Linked DNA regions of Homo sapiens: regions 2, 3, 4, 5, 6 and 7 are each reported to be linked to region 1. The links are microRNA targets in miRTarBase. Many come from high-throughput screens and were not tested one by one. Region 1 holds a microRNA gene; each other region holds the end of a gene's coding sequence.
The links. Region 1 holds the annotated microRNA hsa-miR-4768-3p (CCAGGAGAUCCAGAGAGAAU, at 1,813-1,832, opposite strand). A microRNA usually pairs through its seed, bases 2 to 8, with sites in the 3' UTR of a target mRNA and lowers its output. Matches are read on the target gene's strand: a 7mer-m8 pairs with bases 2 to 8, a 7mer-A1 pairs with bases 2 to 7 and ends in A, and an 8mer does both.

Region 1 (3,098 bases):
ATGGTAGACCTCCAATGTGGGTCACAGCTGGCAGTCTGACCCCAAGAAGTTTGAACCCAGCCTCTATTATCTGTGCAAGACAGAACTGTACTTCTGCTTTGGAGTTAATCCCAGAAGAATTTATTTCTTTTCCAGCCCTTCACATAGCTTGTGCTTTATGGTGGCAGACTCAATGGACCAAACCTTCAGCTGTGGGAATCATGGCTTCAGCCATTGAACACACACAGCCCAGTCAGCTGGCAGAGTGGACAATAAACCTACAAACACTCAGCAAGTCACTCAGGTTCTTGATTCAAGAGTAAATGGCTTCATAAACACAATCATAACAACAGCGGCATGAGTTGGTGCATGTCAATGTGTACATTTCGGTAGAGAGGGCCCAGAGACACGTATTTTGGCAGATGCTAGGTCTTGGCAAGACTGTAAGCAAAATCACAAAGCAGCCCAAGTCTGTGGTCAGTCCCAACTTCCTATCAGTACACCTTTTCCATCCAGGCACCCCATAAAGGTGGATTTGGTCTCTTCCACATTCCATTAAGTGTAGCCTCAATTCCCAACAAAAACCCACACCACACCTCTTTTAAGGAATTTTATAGGAAAACTTTACCTAAACATGTATCCCCAAATCCTCTGAACTAGCAAAATCCTATTCAGGTTTATCTCCATGTCAGAGAGATGGGAAATATATCAAGTTCTGTCAGCAGGTCAGCCAGGCCGAGCATGCCAAGTGATCTGGGGTTATAGACAGCAGATTAATCTCAAAGCTGGAACTTCTTTAAGACCAGGAAGTAGCCCCTTTTCTGATTAAAAGACAAGTCAATAATTCTGGGTCCTTGGTCCACCACTGTGATATGTCCCTTGCAAAACAGGCACTCTCAGGCAGTCTTCCCTGCAGAGCAACCATGATGGATACTGACTACTGACTTGAAAGTGCTTTGACACCCCCAGATGGAAGGAACTAATCAATTATGCTTCTCACTTAGAGGCACCCTGCTCATTCATGCTGAAGATAGAAGTCCAGATAAAAGTAGAATTACTGGGAGTCCAAGATCCAGAAAGAAAATGAGAGAGCTCAGCTGGTCACTGTGAATGATGTGCATGTGCCCCAAGCCTTTGAAACACATGACATTTTCCAGCAGCCAAGCACTCATCAAATTGCAGAATGTCGAAGCTACAAGGAAACTTAGCAATTATTTAATGATCTAAATTACTTTTATTATAGTGAAGAGGAAGCTGAGGCCTAGAGAGGTAAAATAACCTGTCATATAGCTGAGCAGCGAAAGGAACAGACTCATTACCCTAGTGATCTCCTGTCACACAACCCATCTCATGAAGCTCTCTCTCAGGTCGAGTTTAATAGATGAGAGAACAAGGGGTAGTCTGCCTATGCAAAGCAGGTACACACAATGAGATCAGAGCAAAGGGGATTTCCTCCCCTGAAGCTAAACAGCCCCCATAAGTGATGTTACGTGTTAGGATAATTTCCTTGGTGTGCTGGAAGATGTTTCACAAGCATGGGTGGTGGGGACCCTTATTTGCCATATTTGCCAATTTCTATAGTGTAAATACTCTCATCATGGCAGATTTCAAGCTACCAACTTGATGCCACTGAACAGCAGTTGGGGAGAGATATGTGCAATCAGCTCTTGTGAGCTGATAGAAGCTGGATCCTCCACACCACTGGAATTTCTGAGAAGTCTACATCACGGGTTTAGGAATGAAATAACTTTCTGGCCCACAAGAATAAAACACCCAGGTTTATGAGGAAAATCCTAGCAGCACACACTCTAGGTTTCACTCACTGAAACTCTGATTCTCTCTGGATCTCCTGGACATCACAGTTCCCATATCCATGGGATCCAGAGAGAATCAAAGTTTGGAGAAGTTACTTGGTCCATCATGTCTGTATCTCTGGGTAGTATCCTACCTAATTGATCCAAGGCAGGAGCACTGAGAGGTGGAATCCACATTCCCTATCTTAATGCTTTTGGCAACCAAGCATTCCTTTCCCAGCAGTAACAGGATCCAGTTTCCAAGGTGATATGTGAGCTCAGAGCCCCATCTTTACCAACGTCAAAGGCAGTGCTTGGATTCAGCTTCAGGTAGGCCTCCTCTGTTCATGTAAGCAGGAAGGAAAACATGTAAAACTGAATTCCTCCTCAATTTCTTTCTTTCTTTCTTTCTTTCTTTTTTTTTTTTTTTTTTTTTTTTTTTTTTTTTTTTTTTTTTTTTTTTTGGCTGAGAAGAGTTCCAAGGCTGGGGCAGCAACTCATCAGGAAAAGTTCTTAGCCTGTGCTTTCTTTTTGCCAAACATTGATTTGCTAATAGAGAAAATAACTGGTGTATAAACAAAAGTGGTTGATGACATCCAAGGGTCTGGAGCAATTCCTCCACATCGTTCTGACAGCTAACAAATGGAACTAGCTCTTAGGGAGCATGTTTAAGGAACAGCTGGAATATGTAACGGACATTTTTCTGTGAATTTGACAGGTCAAGCTCCATCACGGTTGAGCTACGCTCACCGGACGTGGATCAGAATGAACTCTGCCATTCCTCAGAAGGTTGCCAAGAGGGCTTTGAAGAGAAGGGAATCCAAGGAACTCAGTTTCAGACATGGAGAAGAATAAAGACCAGACAAATCATGAGCAAACCTGATTTAAAGAGAAAGATCTATAAATACCAGTTGCTCAGCTTTCTCCCTGGTTTCCTGACCCTATGATGAGCTCCACCAAAATTAAGTAAGTATAGCCCTTTCCAGAGGGTCACTTGGAGGGAAGATCCTGCCATATGTCGCCTATTGGTCTTTAGCCTCACCACCACCCCAACATCTGATAAAGTCAACAGACGTGAGTTCCTAAAGGATACAGAATATACAAGATACTTTCCCTTATACAAGGATTCACTCTAAGCATCGTTAAAATGGCAAACTCACCTGGGACCCCTAAGATAACCTGATTTACCAAAATCTGGTTTATCCTTAGCATATGAGGAGCACATCCATTCTCTAAAGCAAGGAGATTTTCAAGATCAATGAGCAGAGAAACTTCTCAAAAGAATTTTATAGAATTTTTTAAGATAACAAGCAAACTAACAAATGA
Region 2 (3,098 bases), not on the chromosome of region 1:
TATTATGCTCACCTGGTAGCATTTAGAGCCAGATATCATCTTGTGGACAAAGAACATGACAGGTAATATAAAAGCATAACAGGTTCTCACCCAAATCCCAATATTGTCTGCATGGTAGGATTTTCAAGTTCCACAAGCTATTAGCGGAGTCAGTGATCCATGTGAAAAATGATGACAGAACTGACTGCCCAAGGTTTCCTATTGAAATATATTGTCTAGGCTCATTAGTAATAGAATCATGTAGTAACTTAGTTGTTTTACTACATTAATTCAAAGGAGAGATTATTGGTAATAAAGTGATACATTCAGACAGATAGACAAAATGATACGATATCTAGGTTTGCTTCTAATTAATTCTGGGGAGGTGAGAGAAGTAAAACAAAATTGGCCTTGAGTTAATAGTGATTGAAGCTGAGTGATGGACACATAGATTGTTACACCAGTCTCTTATTTGTTAATAATTTTGAAATTTTCTACAACAAATAGTATTTTTCGGAATTATTACATCAGAATAGAAAGTTTGTTTTTGTGTTCATTGCCACTTCTCTTACAGTGCTGAAGGAAGTCACGTTTCAGGACAAAGCAATGGGCGAGATCCACAAGCTCTTGCCAAGGCTGTACAGATTCACCAAGATACCTTACGCACAATGTACTTCGCTTAAATAGTCCAAGTATATTCTCTGAGAGGAAGTACTGAAAGATGAATTGACATACAACGTATGTTTCCAGTGAAGTCAATTGAGTAAGGACACCTCCAGCCATACAGAAACCAACACTGTGTGGGGGCCAAGGTCTGATCCTTATGTTAATACAAGGAAGATTGTTTACTTCATCAAGGAACACAGCATCATTATGCAATATGAAACCAGCCAACTGCTTTTTGTGCGGTCTCCTATAGGAAGTATCGCAATTGTTTTGTTTTCATTTCTTGTAGTCTAACCCTTTTAATGCCTTTACCTCAAGTTGCTTGGCAGCACAACTATCTTTGCAAAAAAAAGTAAAGAAAAAGTAAATGATGGTTTAAAAAATACACACCTTCATGAATAATCAAAGTGATTTTTCAGAATTATGTGTGCAAAAAATTAATGTGCATTCATATATTCTTGTAAAAGGTGTCTGTGTATTTTTAAAATATATACATCCATACTTCATATGCATATATATCTAGATCTGGATTGATAATAGATATATATGTGTCTGTTATATATTTTAGAGTTCATTCCATTGGGGAATTTTCTTTCCCTTTTATTCTACCCCCACTACCGCCTTTATTTCTCTATTTCCCTTGCCTTCATCACCTACATTTTTTTCCCAGTCCTACCAGTGACATTCAAATGTTGATGTATCTGGTTCGTTTGAATATAAAATATGGCAAACTAGAATTCTACTTTTATTTTGCATACCCTACTCCTGACTCCTATCTCATACACAATTCTGAGTTCTCAACTCTTGATATTGCTGTCTTAAGAAACAAAATTTTATATATATATGTATACATACATACACAGACACAGACACACACATATATATACATAAAATAACTTTCTGTGAGAGTGCGTCTCTCCCCTCCCACTCAGAACATACATTTACCATTTGCGCAATTTGTATATAAGCAGTAGCAACCTGAACTATTCTTTTTCTTTTTTCTTTTTCTTTTCTTTCTTTTTTTTTTTTAATGAGACAGAGCCTCGCTCTGTCACCAGGCTGGAGTGCAGTGGCGAGATCTCGGCTCACTGCAACTTCCGCCTCTCGGGTTCAAGCAATTCTCCTGCCTCAGCCTCCCGAGTAGCTGGGTTTACAGGCATGTGCCACCACACCCAGCTAATTTTTGTATTTTTAGTAGAGACGGGGTTTCACCGTGTTGGCCAGGATGGTCTCGATCTCTTGACCTTGTGATCCACCCGCCTCGACCTCCCAAAGTGCTGGGATTACAGGCATGAGCCACCGCACCCGGCCTACTATTCTTTTTCTTTAGTGAGTTTGTTAAAGCTGCTATAAATATAAAACCTGTCAGAAGTTGTAACTTTCTCTCTGGTAAGTGATGTGTATTCTGAAGCCTTCTGTTTCTATGGGTTATACATGGAAATTCTTTAAAGGTTTTATAAAGGGTAAATATTTTAAAAGATTAGAGCTCTGTAGGGTTGAGACCTCTGAAATTGAGTAGAGAGAAGAGTTTGTTGAGGGATTTTTTTGTTTTGTTTTTTGATAGTTTACTTGCTGCCTCTCATACCTTAATGTGATTTTCATATATTTTTTATATATATATATGTATGTGTGTGTATATAAACACATATGTATGTGTTTGGAAGTATAGCTTCCTTTTCTTTTATATTTATTAGAATAGTGCTTTAATAATTATAGAATTGTATTGGCAGCATCTTTTATAGAAATATAATCATGTTTATTTTAAGAACTGACAACTTGTTTTTGCTATCTTTTAGTGCAATAAGCAGTTTTAAAGGAAAGTTGTGTCTGCATCTTTACCATGGATAGTAGGAGGAACAGGCACCTCCATAGTTTAAAAGGGCAAAGAATACAGCCTTAATTTCAGAAGGAAAGTTTTGTAATTTTCAGTTTTAAAGCATATCTTTTAAAATTCATCATGATAAAAGGCTGGACGCGGTGGCTCATGCCTGTAATCCTAGCACTTTGGGAGGCTGAGACAGGTATATCACCGGAGCTCAGGAGTTTGAGACCAGCCTGGCCAACGTGGTGAAACCCCGTCTCTACTAAAAATACAAAAATTAGCTGGGCGTGGTAGTGGGCACCTCTAATCCCAGCTACTCGGGAGGCTGAGGCAGGATTGCTTGAACCTAGGAGGCGGAAGTTACAGTGAGCCAAGACTGCACCATTGCACTCCAGCCTGGGCAACAAAACCAAAACTCCGTCTCAAAAGAAAAAAAAATCATAATGAAAATGAAGTGAAATTGCCTAAATGAGTCCAACTTGAATATTAGAAATAAAGTTGAACTTTTATATAATTGTGAATAGCTTAACATATTTAAATTATTTGCAAATAGATTGTGTTTATTGAAGAATCATATTGGCTAGATGCCCATTTTCATTTACTAAAATGAATCAGGAAAATGCAAGATGAT
Region 3 (3,098 bases), not on the chromosome of region 1:
TTATAATTTTATATATATACTTGTCTCCTGTACCAGACTTTTTCATTTTTAAATTCATAAGTACTAATGAAGTGGTTGGCACATAGACTATTTTCTTTTTCATCTTTTAGAGTGCTAACTATTACACAATGGGGCCTAGACTAGATATTTTAAAATCAGTGTCTTTAGGAATTGTTTGAGATGATTAGAATACAAATTCTTGAACTTCATCACCAAGTTTCTATTTCAGTAGGTCAGGGAAGCACATTTTGAAGAACACTAAAATAGACCTTCAATGTTTGAATCCAATTATGCATAAGGTATTAATATAAGAATTATACATAAGATATTGATATAATACTACACTAATATAAGGTACTATTTGTAGAGTTATACACTGCTGAATATACTGTGCTAATTACAAAGTATTTATGACTCTTGTGAGGACCACTTGACAAGGTTGCTATATATATGTAAAAAAACCCTCTGCACTTCCTCATTTGACTTACTACTGAGTAAAATTAGCTTATCTTCTCAAAATGCAGTTTTTGTTAGAAAATATAATTTTGAACTAAGATTTTTGCAAACCAGGCAAGTTCTTCATCCACTCAAGGAGAAACTTTAAAATCCACTTAAAATGAAGAGCATTCCTCCCCGACTCAATTTTCTAACTACATATTATCTTCATAGCATTAACACCAGCCAGAATTTATATTATGTAGAGCACTAAAAGCTTCTTAGACTTGTACCTCAGGCTTTTAATTTTGCAGGGGGAAAAGTTAGTATGTCGATTTATCCTAACACTTGAGATATAAAGAACTTTATAAACAGCTCTAAAGGAACATAAAGCACATAAAGGGACACCATATTATACCTTGATTTGATTACTTCATCATTTTCACTGAAATCTGGCCATGGTAGGTTTGGCCGTGGCTGCCAAATGGTATAGAGTACCTGCCTCTTGAATGGATTTATGGGGTCACTTAAGGTATACTTCGAGGCAGATGGCTGGGCTAATAGTTACTTACTTACTCTTGGGAAATGAAATAAAAAATGCTCACACTTGGAAGTGTTTTTTTTGTCAAATTCTATGCAGGATATCAAACAGAAATTTGAAAAATTCTTAAATGACATATACCTATTCATTAACACCCACTGCTCTAGATGACATCCATTAGTTATTACTGGGATCAGATGCTTTTAGGACATCTTTAAAATATTTTGTTATTTTAACTGTAGTTCTTTATAGCATTACGAAAGAAATATCACTCACATAAAGCACTAACAACTCTTTTTAGTACTGTGTCTCTCCCATGCAGTATGGTGCTTAATGTTACTGGAAAATATTGACAGGTTTAGCATTATTTCAACTAATTCTGGGCAAATCTAAATAGAATAGTATAACATGAAGAAATTTATAAATTTGAAATGTGAGTAAACTGGGACGGGAATGAGTTGATGAGTGAACCCAGTTGACCACTGGGCATTTGAATCTCAATGTTGCCTACACAGCATTATGAGTGTAATAATTTTCATTAGGTAACAAAACTGCTTCCTCACCTTTTTATATAGCTTAAACAAAAAAAAAGAAAAAAGATAAAAAAAAACCCTGCTTCTATGTAAACAAAAAAAAAGAAAGCCAACTATTAGTGCTAGGAATGAAAGACATCCAATCCAAGTAAGTGATGGTTCTTAACTATAAAATGGAAATTGTATAAAAATTAAAATAGAATGTAGAACTAGTAGGATAACATTGAAAAACTGACTACTTATATTTGTTTTTTTTATTTTGTGTGTGTTTTTGGCTGATTATATTTAATAAAAGCTACTTTTAGTATTTGAACTAAGTGCACATGTGTGCATTCACATACACAGGACAAGCTCCTCAGCTTTGAACAATATGAACTTTGGACAATATGACAACTATAGCATCACTGGGCAAAAAAAATAGCTGACTTATTTCCAAGTGTGTTTCCTGGGACTAGCAGTAGGTTCTCTCAAATTAAAAGTAAAGGCACCAGGCTATAAAGTGCCAATTCTTAGCACCAGAGAGACTTAAAATGTCACAGGTGAATGACATTACAAATCAGAGAATCTGCTGATCTAGTTCTGTGGAATTGTATTATTTTTGTCAAATGGAAAAAAAAAATCAAGGTTTATGCCAAATAGATTTAAACAGTTAAATCTTTCCTAAAATTTCCTAGAAGTGTATTTTACAATGCTATGTAAAATAAATTGCTGGCTTATAAAAAATGCTCAAAGTTTCAGAGATGTGAAAAATAACAAAGAACTGAAAACATAGTTTATATAAATCAAGGTCCCAGAAATGAAAATTAAAAGTAGTCTCTTTGAGAAAGGAATGGTGAAATTCAGCATGTAGTATTCACATTAACACATCTGAGAACTGTGGACAGCCAATATTGACTGGAATTCTAAATTGCCACCTGATACCTTTAATTAAGATTAAATCAAATCTGAGGCAAGACACTTAATGGACAGTACTTGAATGGGAAGACAGTAACTTCCTTCCTTGATAGACAATCTCCAGCCATCATTCAGAGTTCAGTTATTTGATGGCTTGGGAAGCAGTGTCCATTGAGTTTTCCTTTCTGGCTTGAAGAGACTCACTGCTGATGGACAATAATTCTCGAAGTTCCTTATTTTCAAGCTGGAAAAAAAAAGGCATGTTTATTTCTGGTATTTTTACTGTCCAACTGCATTACAACAACACATTATTTTGAGCCAGGAGCAGAAAACATTATTTTAATTTTAAAAAATTTATGGAAACAAAAAATCCACTAGTTGAGAATTTCCTTAAATACTACTTTATTCATTTAACAAACATTTACATGTAGGATGTAGGCAATGATACTCTTTTGTAGTAGTAATTTACTGAGTAATTTCTATATACCAAGTGTTAGGATTACAAAGGAGAAACAAAAAACAAGGTCCTCTCCATTTAAGGAATTCACTGTTATATTCTTCTTGGTTCCCACAGTTTTACTATTATTTCTTTTATTTAAAAAATTCCTAATAATCGTTTCACTCTGATTAATCTCCTCTCCTGGATATCTTACAGTTCTAGAGAAATGGAAGGAAAGGGGGAAAGAAATTACTTA
Region 4 (3,000 bases), not on the chromosome of region 1:
GAACTGTGCAGGGCCATATGAATGTCACGGCTTTGCACACACATAGTGGACACCCACATCAGAAACTTCCTTTCTTGGCTTCAGAGGGGCAGCTGGGAATCTGACCTAGTGATCATACACACTGTAGGAAAGGGGTTGGGGAAATCCCCGTATGTAACTTTGCTTTTCTTTCTCTTCTAGCTTAATCGAACCCTGAAGAAGATGGGACAGAGACCTTGATGATATTCACACACATTCAGGAACCTGTTTTGATGTATTATAGGCAGGAAGTGTTTTTGCTACCGTGAAACCTTTACCTAGATCAGCCATCAGCCTGTCAACTCAGTTAACAAGTTAAGGACCGAAGTGTTTCAAGTGGATCTCAGTAAAGGATCTTTGGAGCCAGATTTGTCGTCTCATTATTGTAGGAGAGAATTTGTGGGTTGTGGCAGTAATACATTTCCCATGTGTCCTGATGCTTTCAGGATACATCAGTTGTTAGTGTTTAAATTGAGTTATTTTTATTTTGTGCTTTTGAGATGGAGTCTCACTCTGTCTCCCAGGCTGGAGTGCAGTAGCGTGATCTCAGTTCGTTGCATCCTCCGCTGCCCAGGTTCAAGCAGTTCTGCCTCAGCCTTCCAAGTAGCTGGGATTACAGGCGTGTGCCACCACACTCAGCTAATTTTTGTATTCTCAGTAGAGATGGGTTTTACCATGTTGGCCAGGCTGGTCTCGAACTCCTGGCCTCAAGTGATTCGCCTGCCTTGGCCTCCCAAAATGTGCTAGGATTACAGGCATGAGCCACCACGCCCCGCCTAAATTCAAAATCTTTTTGTTTTTTTTTAGACGGAGTCTCACTCTGTCGCCCAGGTTGGAGTGTACTGGCGCGATCTCGGCTCACTGCAAGCTCCACCTCCCAGGTTCCTGCCATTCTCCTGCCTCAGCCTCCCAAGTAGCTGGGACTACAGGCACCCGCCACCATGCCCGGCCAATTTTTTGTATTTTTTAGTAGAGATGGGGTTTCACCGTGTTAGCCAGGATGGTCTCAGATTTCCTGACCTCGTGATCTGCCCATCTCTGCCTCCTAAAGTACTGGGATTACAGGCGTGAGCCACCGTGCCCAGCCCTAAATTGAATTCTTAAATCCCTCTTGTTCATAAAGCAGTATATTTGGTTTACAGGACATTTTCACGTTCAGTATTTTGTTTGTGCGTCACAAGATCCTATGAACTTTAAATGACCTATAATTTTCATGACATATTTGTGGCAGTGCTGGGTCCTGGAAGGAAACTATTGAACACCTCCTACTGCCAGGAACTGTGCAAAGAGGGATCCATATACATTACTTACACCTTACAACTCAGGTTTAGTAGTAGTTCCTCATCTTATTGATGAGGAAATGAACCCACAGTAGTTAGTGACTTGATCAAGGTCACATTAGGCAGCTGCTGGAGCTGAGCTAAATGGTTTCCTGCCTACCCACAGTATTAATGCTATGCCTGTCACCCTATAGTGGGTACTTGGACTGGAAGCCCCTGCTTGCAAGTTGTCTCACATCTCTGCCTGGTTCCTTGTATATAAAATAAGGTTAGCAGGCCAGGCGCGGTGGCTCACGCCTGTAATCCCAGCACTGGGAGGCCGAGGCGGGCGGATCACAAGGTCAAGGAGATCGAGACCATCCTGGCTAACATGGCGAAACCCTGTCTCTATTAAAAATACAAAAAAATTAGCCGGGCGTGGTGGCGGGCGCCTGTAGTCCCAGCTACTCGGGAGGCTGAGGCAGGAGAATGGCGTGAACCCGGGAGGCGGAGCTTGCAGTGAGCCAAGAGATCGTGCCGCTGGACCCCAGCCTGGGTTACAGAGCGAGACTCCGTCTAAAAAAAATAAAAAATAAGTGTAGCAGAACCTGGCTCACTGGGCAGTGGTGACGAATAAATGAGAATGCTATTTTGAGTGCCCAGTGCAGTGCCTGGCCTATAATGGATGTTCAGTTACTGTTTCCCCACACTTGGAATTCGTAAGCTTTTCAGTATGCTCTTTTTCCCCATTGGTTTGATAATTATTATTGGGAACTGAATGGTGGTTCCCAAGAAGACATGTCCATATCCTAAGCCCTGGATGCCATCAGCATGACCTTATTTGTTTGGCTGGCATGCAGTGGCACGATCTCTGTTCACTGCAACGTCTGCCTCCCAGGTTCAAGCTATTCTACCTCAGCCTCCCAAGTAGTTGCATGCCACCATGCCTGGCTAATTTTTTGTATTTTTATTTTTGTTTATTTTTTTGAGACAGAGTTTTGATCTTATTGCCCAGGCTGGAGTGCAATGGCGCGATCTCGGCTCACTGCAACCTCCGCCTCCGGGGTTCAAGCGGTTCTCCTGCCTCAGCCTCCCAAGTAGCTGGGACTACAGGTGCACGCCACCACGCCTGGCTAATGTTTGTAGTTTTAATAGAGACGAGGTTTCGCGATGTTGGCCAGGCTAGTCTCGAACTCCTGACCTCAGGTGATCTGCCTGCCTCAGCCTCCCAAAGTGCTGGGATTATAGGCGTGAGCCACTGCGCCTGGCTTTTTGTATTTTCAGTAGAGACTGGGTTTCACCATGTTGGTCAGGTGGGTCTCAAACTCCTGACCTCAGATGATCACCCATCTCGGCCTCCCAAAGTGCTGGGATTACAGGCATGAGCCACAGTGCCCGGCCTTCTTTGTTTTGTTTTTGTTTTTGTTTTTGAGATGGAATCTCGCTCTGTCGCCCAGGCTGGAGTGCAGTGGTGCAATCTCAGCTCACTGCAACCTCCACCTTCTGGGTTCAAGAGATTCTCCTGCCTCAGCCTCCTGAGTAGCTGGGACTACAGGCACCATTTCTCCTGCCTCAGCCTCCTGAGTAGCTGGGACTACAGGCACCCACGACCACACCTTGCTAATTTTTATATTTTTTTAGTAGAGATGGTATTTTGCCATGTTGGCCAGGCTAGTCTCAAACTCCTGACCTCAGGTGATCTGCCTGCCTCAGCCTCCCATAG
Region 5 (3,098 bases), not on the chromosome of region 1:
AAATAGGGCAGCTAAGAAGCTTCACTAAGTTCAAATGGGTCACAATACAGGAGGCTCCTTGCTTTGAGGAGCTATTCATGGCTGAGAGTTACTAATGGCAAAATTTCCTTCCCTAACAGAAATCATTCCTTCCTTCCAGGCTGGTTATATGATTATACCCAGACATACAATGGCTCTTTCTACTTCTCTGGCATATGCTATCTCCTCTCTTCAGTTTCCTTTTTTTTTGTACCATTGGCCGAAAGATGGAAAAACAGTCTGACCTGAAAGAAAGAAGACTGCAATCAAGTGAGAGCTAAACAAAAGAAAACCTAAACTAATGTCATTGGAAACAAAAGCTTGAAAGAAACACATCGCATCTACATTTGTAACATGAGAAGGAAAACAATTTTTTTTTTTTTTTTTTTGAGACGGAGTCTCGCTCTTTCGCCCAGGCTGGAGTGCAGTGGCGCAATCTCGGCTCACTGTAATCTCCGCCTCCTGGGTTCAAGGGATTCTCCTGCCTCAGCCTCCCAAGTAGCTGGGACTACAGGCACACGCCACCACACCCAGCTAATTTTTTGTATTTTTAGTAGAGGCGGGGTTTCACCATGTTAGCCAGGATGGTCTCCATCTCCTGACCTCGTGATCCGCCCGCCTTGTCCTCCAAAGTGCTGGGATTACAGGCATGAGCCACTGGGCGCGGCCAGATAAGTTTTTAAGGTTCCTTCTTGCTTTAGCATTCTGAGAAATGTCTAATTGGTAGTAAGACAAGAGTAATAGCAACCTGTATTGTTAGTATTTAACCAAATAGGCTAAAATTTTAATCAGGTACCTTATGTATTAAATAGAAATCGGAATGTACCATAATAAATCCAAACTCTCAATTACGCCATGGTAATTCAGTCACTAAAATATGTAAAGATAGAAAATTTTTTAATTTAAAGAAGTGTGAAACATAGCCATTGATTGATCAGAATTCTGGAATCTGAATATTAAAACCTTACTTAGTGACTGGAATGGTATATGCTCCCTCCAAAAGTTTATCTTTGTTTATTGATTAAAGGTAATCCTTACTTTCTTTGTATTACTTAGGTTCTTAATTAAAGGTAATCCTTACTTTCTTTGTATTACTTAGGTTCTTAAATTTCTATGATAAACATGTATTGCTAAATAATAAAAAGTATATAAAAATTGCTTTAAAAACTTCTTTATTTCAAGATCATCTGAACAGCAATTTTGCCCATCAAAGCGTTATTTTTCTGCTACATCTAATTAACAAAATATTCACACTAAATATTGAAACGTCTCTTTACAAGATTTACATGAAAGTTGAATAGGTGGTTTTAATGGGAAATATGTTTAAATTAAAAGATGTTTCTTATACCACCAACCTCCCTTAGCATCTCCTTCTGAATGCTTTTTTTTTTTTTTTTTTGAGACAGGGTCTCACTCTGTCGCCCAGGCTGGAGTGCAGTGGTATGATCTCAGCTCACTGCAAACTCCGCCTCCAGAGTTCAAGCTATTCTCCTGCCTCAGCCTCCCAAGCAGCTGGGATCACCGGCATCGGCCACCATGCCCAGCCAATTTTTGTTATTTTTAATAGAGACAGGGTTTTACCATCTTGGCCAGACTGGTCTCAAACTCCTGACCTCAAGTGATCCACCCGCCTCGGCCTCCCAAAATGGTGGGATTACAGGCGTGAGCCTCCATGCCTGGTCCAAAATGCTTCTTAAACTATTACCATCATCGTTATTCCACTCTTCCATTCCTCTCTGCTTTAAAATGTCTATTAACAACTTACAGAGAAAAACTCTAGAAGACTGGTTTTAGCTCCATACCCTGTCACTGCCTATGTATGCCTTCTCTACCAGGCACCATTTCACTTTTCACTATCTGACTCACTCAAAGGCTACCTCCTTTGGAAAAATCTTCCCCAGCATTGTCATTCTCATCTGGAATCCTATCTAACTTTTAACAGAGTACTACATGAACTCACATGTCAATCCTTTCCATTAGTCTGCAAGATCAACAAGATGAATGGGGTTTCATTCATCTTTGTATTCTCCAAGGCCTAGCATAAGCTTTGGAACCAAATTAATCTCGGTTCAAATCTCAGTTATGTTAAAAAACAGTAGTTGATCCTATTTAAATATGGTTTTTATGGCTTTCTGACTAAAGCAAAAGAAAAAAGAAAACTGGTTTTCTGACTTAAAAAAAAAGAAATATCATTTTTACATTTAGATGTGGATGTCTAATATTTTTACATTTTACATGTAAAAAAAATGAAAAAAAAAACCACCCCTTACACATACAAACAGCAAAAATAGTTAACTAATAATAAATATCAGCTCTGCCACTTGTTACCATATGCCCTCATGAAAGTTACTTAAAATTAACTTATCTGAGACCCAATTTCCTGCTCTGTAAAATGAAAATACCACCAACCCACCTCACAGATATACTGTGAGGACTAAACCCATGAAAATATACTTGTGCCGGGCATGGTTGCTCACACCTTCAATCCTAGCACTTTGAGAGCTGAGGCGGGTGGATCACTTGAGGTCAGGAGTTCAAGACCAGCCTAGCCAACATGGTGAAACTCTGTCTCTACTAAAAATACAAAAATTAGCTGGGCACAGTGGCGCACGCCTGTAGTCCCAGCTACTTAGGAGGCTGAGGCAGGAGAATCGCTTGAACCCGGGAGGTGGAGGTGGCAGTGAGATCATGCCACTGCACTCCAGCCTGGGCAACAGAGCAAGACTCCGTCTCAAAAAAAAAAAAAAAAAAAAAAAAGAAAAAGAAAATATACTTATACCAGGCAAAATGCCCTTCATATATAGTAGCTGCTAATGTCCATTCTGCTTTCATGTCAAAACAAAAAATAAAAGAAATCAATGATTTTATGAACCACTTTCATTAATTCCTTCTTCTCTTTAGAGTAGCAATTATTTTTAAAAGGGACTTCAACTACCTAGAGCAACCTGATCCTTCCTCCTAGCTAAGCAAGCTGTACATTTTAAGTGGGACCAACTAAAGAACTCCAAATTGAATTCTTAGGTTTTATGAATCTCATGCAACAGAGAAGTTCTTTATCCTACTCAATAGTAATAGGCCCT
Region 6 (3,098 bases), not on the chromosome of region 1:
GAAGCAACTTGCTCCAAGTCACACAGCTCACAGGGGCAAGTCCAGGCAGCCTGGCCCTGGAGTCTATGCTATGCTGCCTCTTGAAGGCCTCTCCCCTCACCCACTTTCCTTCTCAGCTTCCCTCATCTTCTTCTGTCAGTGTGAAGCTAGGAGTGCAAGCTACATAAAAAGAACTTTGCACTTTAAAATTCCAATTCTATGTTATAATCAGAGCTGGAGAACTTCCCCCTGAGATCTGTTTAATAGCCTTAGTAGAAAATCTGCATAACCCCCAAGTTGGGAATCAGTGTTTGTGTCTGGTTTAATGCTGATAAAACAAACAATGGATCAGCTCAGCTGACTGCCTAGCACAGTGTCCCCATTCTCCTGAAGCCTTCCTAGCATGGCTTCAAGGAAACTAAAAGGGGGATCACACACAAGAAGGAGCCCACTATCTTAAATGGCTATGGAGTCAGATCAGAGAGAGGGCTATTGAACTGATTTCTGCCTTTTCCAGGCCATAACTACTGCTCAGTGAACAATGGCGGCTGCACCCACCTATGCTTGGCCACCCCAGGGAGCAGGACCTGCCGTTGCCCTGACAACACCTTGGGAGTTGACTGTATCGAACAGAAATGAAGACAAGAGTGCCTTATTTCCTTTCCAAGTATTTCACAGCAACACTCTACTTGAAGCAACTTGGTCCAGATTGAAAAGTGTCCTCTGGCTGAGTGGCCACTAGGCCCAGACCCAGCCCAGCCTGAGCCCCAACAACTTTTCCCTCACTGTTCCCCAAAACATGCACCCTGGACTTCTCTAATAGAAAAGTCTCCACCCCTACACAAGGACAGAACCCTCCACCCCTACCCCCAACCCTCAGACAGACTTATACACCCCTGAGTGAGGATTACATGCCCATCCCAGTGTCCTAGGACCTTTTCCCAATACTAGCCCCCCAGTGGTGAACAGAACCTCCCAAATTTGAGTTGCACCCTTCCCTGTGGCCTTATGAGCTCAGCCTCGCTTTGAGGTACCCACCGTCCTGTCAGCTCCTTGACCTATGAGCCGGGGCCTGACTAGGAAAAGTTGGGAGTTAAGGAGGAAATTAGCATTCCTTAATGTTTTGTTTTGGTGCTCTGAATTTCTTCTTTATTATAGTCCTATAGTTTTACTCCTCAGTTCCTCACCATCATCATCTTGTCTAAGACCCCCATTATAATATTCATGCGCTGCTTTTTCATCAAAACCTACCCTGTCCTAGAGATCTATGGGCATTTGGTGGATGATAATGAGCAGCCCCTCCCAGATAGAATGTCAATATTTGAGCAGTAGGATATTGGCATTTGTTAGTTAAAGGCTTAAATCAAAAGAATGTCCAATGGTAGGAATTTCAAGGTGTAGGTCAGATATTTGAGAATAGGGGATTTTTTTGATGTGCCTTAAATTATACCAAAGATTACTAATTATTCCTCTTTGCCCAAAATACTTGCATCCAAGGTTCTAGTCTCTGTTGCTGTGCTGGTCTTTAGCCCCACTGCTTGCACTGATGTCCCTCCTTTTCACGGAGACCTATCTGAGGTACAGGATGGGGCTGGCACCAGATGATGTCCCACCACAGTCCCTCACCTCCGGCCTCCACATGACAGAACCAATTTACACTCAACCATGACCTCACCCCTCCTTGGTTTCTCCCTCGATCTGTGGCCCTTTTTGGATGTATTCTTATCTAACAACACAATCCGGAAAGACTGAATTGAATATTTATACTAATGGTTCATATCCTTTATTGCTCAATGATCTAATTAAAGGGATCATTGCCACATTTCATGTTTATATTTCTACAATTTGTTTAGAAAACATCTCCTGACCATATCAGTAGCTCGTGTTATCTTTTTATCAACTGCTTCCCAGAGTCCTAAAACAATAGAAATTTTGGATTGAAAAGTTCAGCATAAGGAGTTTGAGTCAGTAAAGGATGGGATAAAGGAGTCGAGATGATTCAATGAAAAGTATCACAAAAAAGAGATTGATCAACAAGAGAAATAAAAAAGCCCAAGAGGAAGTGGTAGGGGAAGGAATTTAAGAACAGCAATAAGTAAAACTCTTAAGTAACTCCAAAAAGAAAATGGTACATTTTGCCAAAGACCACTTATACTTGAGAACATGGAAGAATTTGCCTGATACTCTCTTTGGGGAAAAGAGTCTCTCCTCTTTTCCTCAAACCCCAGTACACTCAGCCTCTCTGCCCCACCTTCTCCTGACTTTGTCCTCACTTGCTTCTGCAGTACATTGGAACCTGAATTGAAAGAAAGTCTTCCTTGAATAATTGGAGTTTGTCTTGAGAGGCAAATATAGCCCCAAGAATCACAAGATTCGAGGACCATGTAGGTCTTTTACGTAGCCCAAATCCATAAATTAGTCTCACTTTTTGTATTTATCGTTTCATATTAAACCCTCTATATCAAATGTTCATCATGATTTTGTATGATTTTTATAACTATTTTATTCATTTTATTAGATTTATTCTAAAATTTTTTAATGGTAAATTCTTAAACTGTGGAAACCACTGAAGGTGCTTATTAACTGTTCTCCCAGATTTGTACAAGTATTGGATGATTCCTTGAGTTTACAGCTGTACAAATAGTGTGGAAAATAAACTTTTTTTAAAAAAGAAAATCTTCCTCTATCTTTTCTGAATGAAGAGATTTAATGTTGGGAGGCTGATTCATGATAGACAGACAGACAGCCACTTAATAATCTGCAAAACCTGTGGAGCCCAGAAACTCTTATCCCAGTATTATGAGAGCTAGTATGTTTCTCAACCACAAAAAACCTTAGGGGTTGTAATTTACCTAAAAATGAGTGCAGTGTCTCACACCTGTAATCCCAACACTTTAGGAGGCCAAGGTGGGTGGATCACTTGAGGCCAGGAGTTTGAGACCAGTTTGGGCAATACAGGGAGACTCCATCTCTGCAAAACATCAAAAAAAAAAATTAGCTGGGCATGGTGGCACACACCTGTAGTCCCAACTACTCAGGAGGCTGAGGTGGGAGGATTGTTTGAATCCGGGAGGCCAAGGCTGCAGTGAGCTATGATCGTGCCACTGCACTCCAACCTG
Region 7 (3,098 bases), not on the chromosome of region 1:
TCTATGCTTTTTTTCCTCCTTTACTCTCTTCAGCTACCTTTAGTATCCATTTTACCCATTTTTCTCTTTTATTAGTTAGGTTGAGCCATATTAAATAACAGTTTTTTTGGGTCAAAACTGGTTGAATATCAGCAGTTCCATATAGTTCAACCTAATAATACCATTGAAAGGAAAGGAGGGAAGAAGACATAGAATAACTTAAAATATATAACGAGGGCTTGAAAACTTAAACATAAAATTTGAGTATTTTAAAACATTGTTTCATAGTTACTACTTTTATATTATTGAGACGTAACAGTATTTACCATCCTCCTAATTTTTTTCTTCGTTTTCCCCCTTTTCTTTTTTAGCCAAGTCTGAAACTAGCTGGGAATCTCCCAAACAAATAAAAAAGAAGAAAAAAGCCAGACGAGAAACGTGAAATTTTTTTTCCTGAATTGGACATGTGTTTGCAAACACTTGTCTTGAAGATTATGCTGTTTATGCAATAATTTGTGAACATGTACAGAGTTTTATATAAATTTAAACCAATTTTTAAAACAAAACTGCGGACACCACCATAAAAATGGAATCAAAAGAAAGTTAATTTATGAAATTAAGAGGTCAGCAGAATATACTCAGTGATGGAAGACACTTGGGAAAGTCTTTTTAATAGAACAAGAACGATCTTAATTTAAGAATATTATCCTGGTTTAACAACAGTGCCCTGTTTACAACAGATTGTGCCCTATCTCATCTGCAGCCGAGGAATAAAGGATTCTGATTAGAAAGAGGGTTGCCTACAGATTAGTAAGCAATTCCTTGGATCTTATGCACAGAACTTGTACCATTTGAATCTGTTTTATGCTTAAATCAAAGTGCTTTGATCAAATGCATAACCTGCCATATCTTTACATATTTGTTGGTAGCAATTTGTATTAAAGAAATCACAAGTGCAAATAAAAAGTCATTTATCATTTGTTTAACTAAACTGTCATGGTTTAGTTTACAATTTTTAAAAAGTTCTTAAAATACTGAAAATGCAGTTGACACTTGTGTATGGCTTATGAAGTTATTTTTGATAGTCTTACATTACTTGAATTGTTCAAAGTACAGTATATTTTAAATTAAGAAAAGTGAACTATATGTATTTGTTTTATACATTTAAGGCTTAGACTCATAAATAATGCTATTGTTTATGATTTGAAAACTTTCAGGCAAAATCCAATTTACATTTTTCCCTTCCCTAGCAATTACTTTTTTCCAGCTTCAACTCTTCTTAGTTACTAATACTTTGTTGACTTTAAAAATGAAATCATTCACAAACTTTTGGTATATGATGGAGAATGAAAAACTAGAGTCAGACAGCTTTAATTGACATTGTCAACACCTCCAGTTATCAGGAATACATTTTTTTACTGCCTTAACCTGTAGTGCGTAGAATATGCATCAATTTCTTGAAGGAGATTCATGTTTTTATAAGAATTTTCATGTAATTATTGCAATTGTGGTCAAATAAGGAACGTTTCCTGCTTGAAATTATATTGATTTAAATGATGTGTGAGATGTTTCACCATTTTCAGGCACTGTGTAATTCTATTGTAATAAACTGGCAGGTATCTTTGTAACTATAAATAGTGCATGCTCAGCCATGTACACTGTAAATAGCCTTTACCAAACGTGTTTGACAAGGACCATAATTAACATCACTTAGTGAATTGTGATAAAGAAAAAAAAGCCATGATTTATTCGATGTGATTGGCTTGTTTTTATGTGGCGCCAAGAACGAACCTGTTTAACAGCTGTAACCAATGGTACTGATCTATCCATCCAATGTTGTCATTATATTTGACTGTGGTTCAACAGTATTGCGTTGTCAGACTAGGAAAGCTAAACGAACAAAATGGTTTTAGTTTTGCTGAAGACTGGCCTTATTAATGGACAGCTTTCCTAACAAGAGATTATTAACTTTTATCAGGTGTTAACATCTGTTTCAGGAACATGGCAGTATGTTTACATGTCAGAAGTTTTGTTTAATTCTATGGTATTTCTAAATTGACTTGTTTAAATAAATTCAGCAAATGGATAGCATTGTTTTTTATTTGCTTCAATATGGGGGTAGATAATAGCTAAAGAGCCAAGGATGAATTTCTTCAAATGACTTTATTCTGTTAGCTTTACATAGGTGTTGGAGGATTCCTAAGGTGTCAGCATTTTGTAAAGGTACCACAAAGGAGAAGTTGATAGGGAATCTAATTTTAGAATGTGCCAAATGGTCTGTGCTCAACAATATAATTGAACTCTCTCAACTCTACCTCACCATTTCTTTATCTCAAAATTCTGTTGGCTTTGTCAAACGTTGGATTTTATTTCTGCAGCCTAGTATCTCCCCATTCTACCACCTATGCCAGATGTTAAAGACAGCAGATGTTTTGAGGAGAATGGCATTGTGGAGATGCAGAGATGCGTTGCTAAGTTGAGGTGGATCCAGTATAGAGATACCTCTATTTCTTCTTTATGGCTCAAGAGCTAGGACTTGGATTTTGTTTTAAGAGATGGCAGCTGGCCGGGTGCAGTGGCTCACGTCTGTAATCCCAGCACTTTGGGAGGCCGAGGCAGGTGGATCACGAGGTCAGGAGTTCAAGACCAGCCTGGCCAAGAGGGTGAAACCCCATCTTTACTAAAAATACAAAAAAAAAAATTAGCTGGGTGTGGTGGTGGGCTCCTGTAATCCCAGCTACTCAGGAGGCTAAGGCAGAGAATCATTTGAACCCAGGAGACGGAGTTTGCAAAGCCAAGATCGTGCCACTGCACTCCAGCCTGGGCAACAGAAGGAGACTCCGTCTCAAAAAAAAAAAAAAGATGGCAGCTATATAAATGATAAAATTAATTACATTCTCTTTCACATGCATGAGGTGCAAACTCTGTCACAAAGTATTTTAATTACCTTTTACCTTGTTTCATAGATCTTTATGTGACATAAAAACAGTTTCTGGCACGGTGGCTCACGCCTGTAATCCTAGCACTTTGGGAGGCTGAGGCAGGTGGATCACCTGAGGTCAGGAGTTTGAGACCAGCCTGGCCAATATGGTGAAACCCCATCTCTACAAAATTTGCAA

Region 2: miRTarBase lists AGO3 as a target of hsa-miR-4768-3p. Seed matches in the 3' UTR shown: 7mer-A1 at 1,408-1,414 and 7mer-m8 at 1,765-1,771.
Region 3: the mRNA of SIKE1 is a reported target of hsa-miR-4768-3p. The part of its 3' UTR that is shown has no 7-base or 8-base seed match.
Region 4: miRTarBase lists EIF3L as a target of hsa-miR-4768-3p. Seed matches in the 3' UTR shown: 7mer-m8 at 911-917.
Region 5: the mRNA of SLC16A4 is a reported target of hsa-miR-4768-3p. Seed matches in the 3' UTR shown: 7mer-m8 at 496-502 and 8mer at 613-620.
Region 6: miRTarBase lists NID1 as a target of hsa-miR-4768-3p. Seed matches in the 3' UTR shown: 8mer at 1,839-1,846 and 8mer at 2,233-2,240.
Region 7: the mRNA of MTDH is a reported target of hsa-miR-4768-3p. The part of its 3' UTR that is shown has no 7-base or 8-base seed match.

Annotation. Positions count from the first base shown.
Region 1 is chrX:17,424,661-17,427,758 of GRCh38, reverse strand. MIR4768 (microRNA 4768) reads right to left here and starts at 1,878; the gene lies at 1,805-1,878. All of the region lies in intron 1 of NHS (NHS actin remodeling regulator), which reads right to left.
Region 2 is chr1:36,055,084-36,058,181 of GRCh38, forward strand. It overlaps AGO3 (argonaute RISC catalytic component 3), which reads left to right. Exons shown (of 19, transcript NM_024852.4): 18 at 1-62; 19 at 554-3,098. The coding sequence ends at 662. Among named protein-coding and RNA genes, the nearest start is that of TEKT2, 27 kb to the right of the region's middle.
Region 3 is chr1:114,771,726-114,774,823 of GRCh38, forward strand. SIKE1 (suppressor of IKBKE 1) reads right to left here. Exons shown (of 5, transcript NM_025073.3): 5 at 1-2,647. The coding sequence ends at 2,546. Among named protein-coding and RNA genes, the nearest start is that of SIKE1, 7.4 kb to the right of the region's middle.
Region 4 is chr22:37,888,246-37,891,245 of GRCh38, forward strand. It overlaps EIF3L (eukaryotic translation initiation factor 3 subunit L), which reads left to right. Exons shown (of 13, transcript NM_016091.4): 13 at 181-1,162. The coding sequence ends at 219. Among named protein-coding and RNA genes, the nearest start is that of MICALL1, 17 kb to the right of the region's middle.
Region 5 is chr1:110,360,935-110,364,032 of GRCh38, reverse strand. It overlaps SLC16A4 (solute carrier family 16 member 4), which reads left to right. Exons shown (of 9, transcript NM_004696.3): 9 at 140-1,176. The coding sequence ends at 267. Among named protein-coding and RNA genes, the nearest start is that of RBM15, 23 kb to the right of the region's middle.
Region 6 is chr1:235,975,387-235,978,484 of GRCh38, reverse strand. It overlaps NID1 (nidogen 1), which reads left to right. Exons shown (of 20, transcript NM_002508.3): 20 at 497-2,655. The coding sequence ends at 618. Among named protein-coding and RNA genes, the nearest start is that of LINC02768, 4.4 kb to the right of the region's middle.
Region 7 is chr8:97,724,250-97,727,347 of GRCh38, forward strand. MTDH (metadherin) reads left to right here. Exons shown (of 12, transcript NM_178812.4): 12 at 351-3,098. The coding sequence ends at 421. Among named protein-coding and RNA genes, the nearest start is that of LAPTM4B, 50 kb to the right of the region's middle.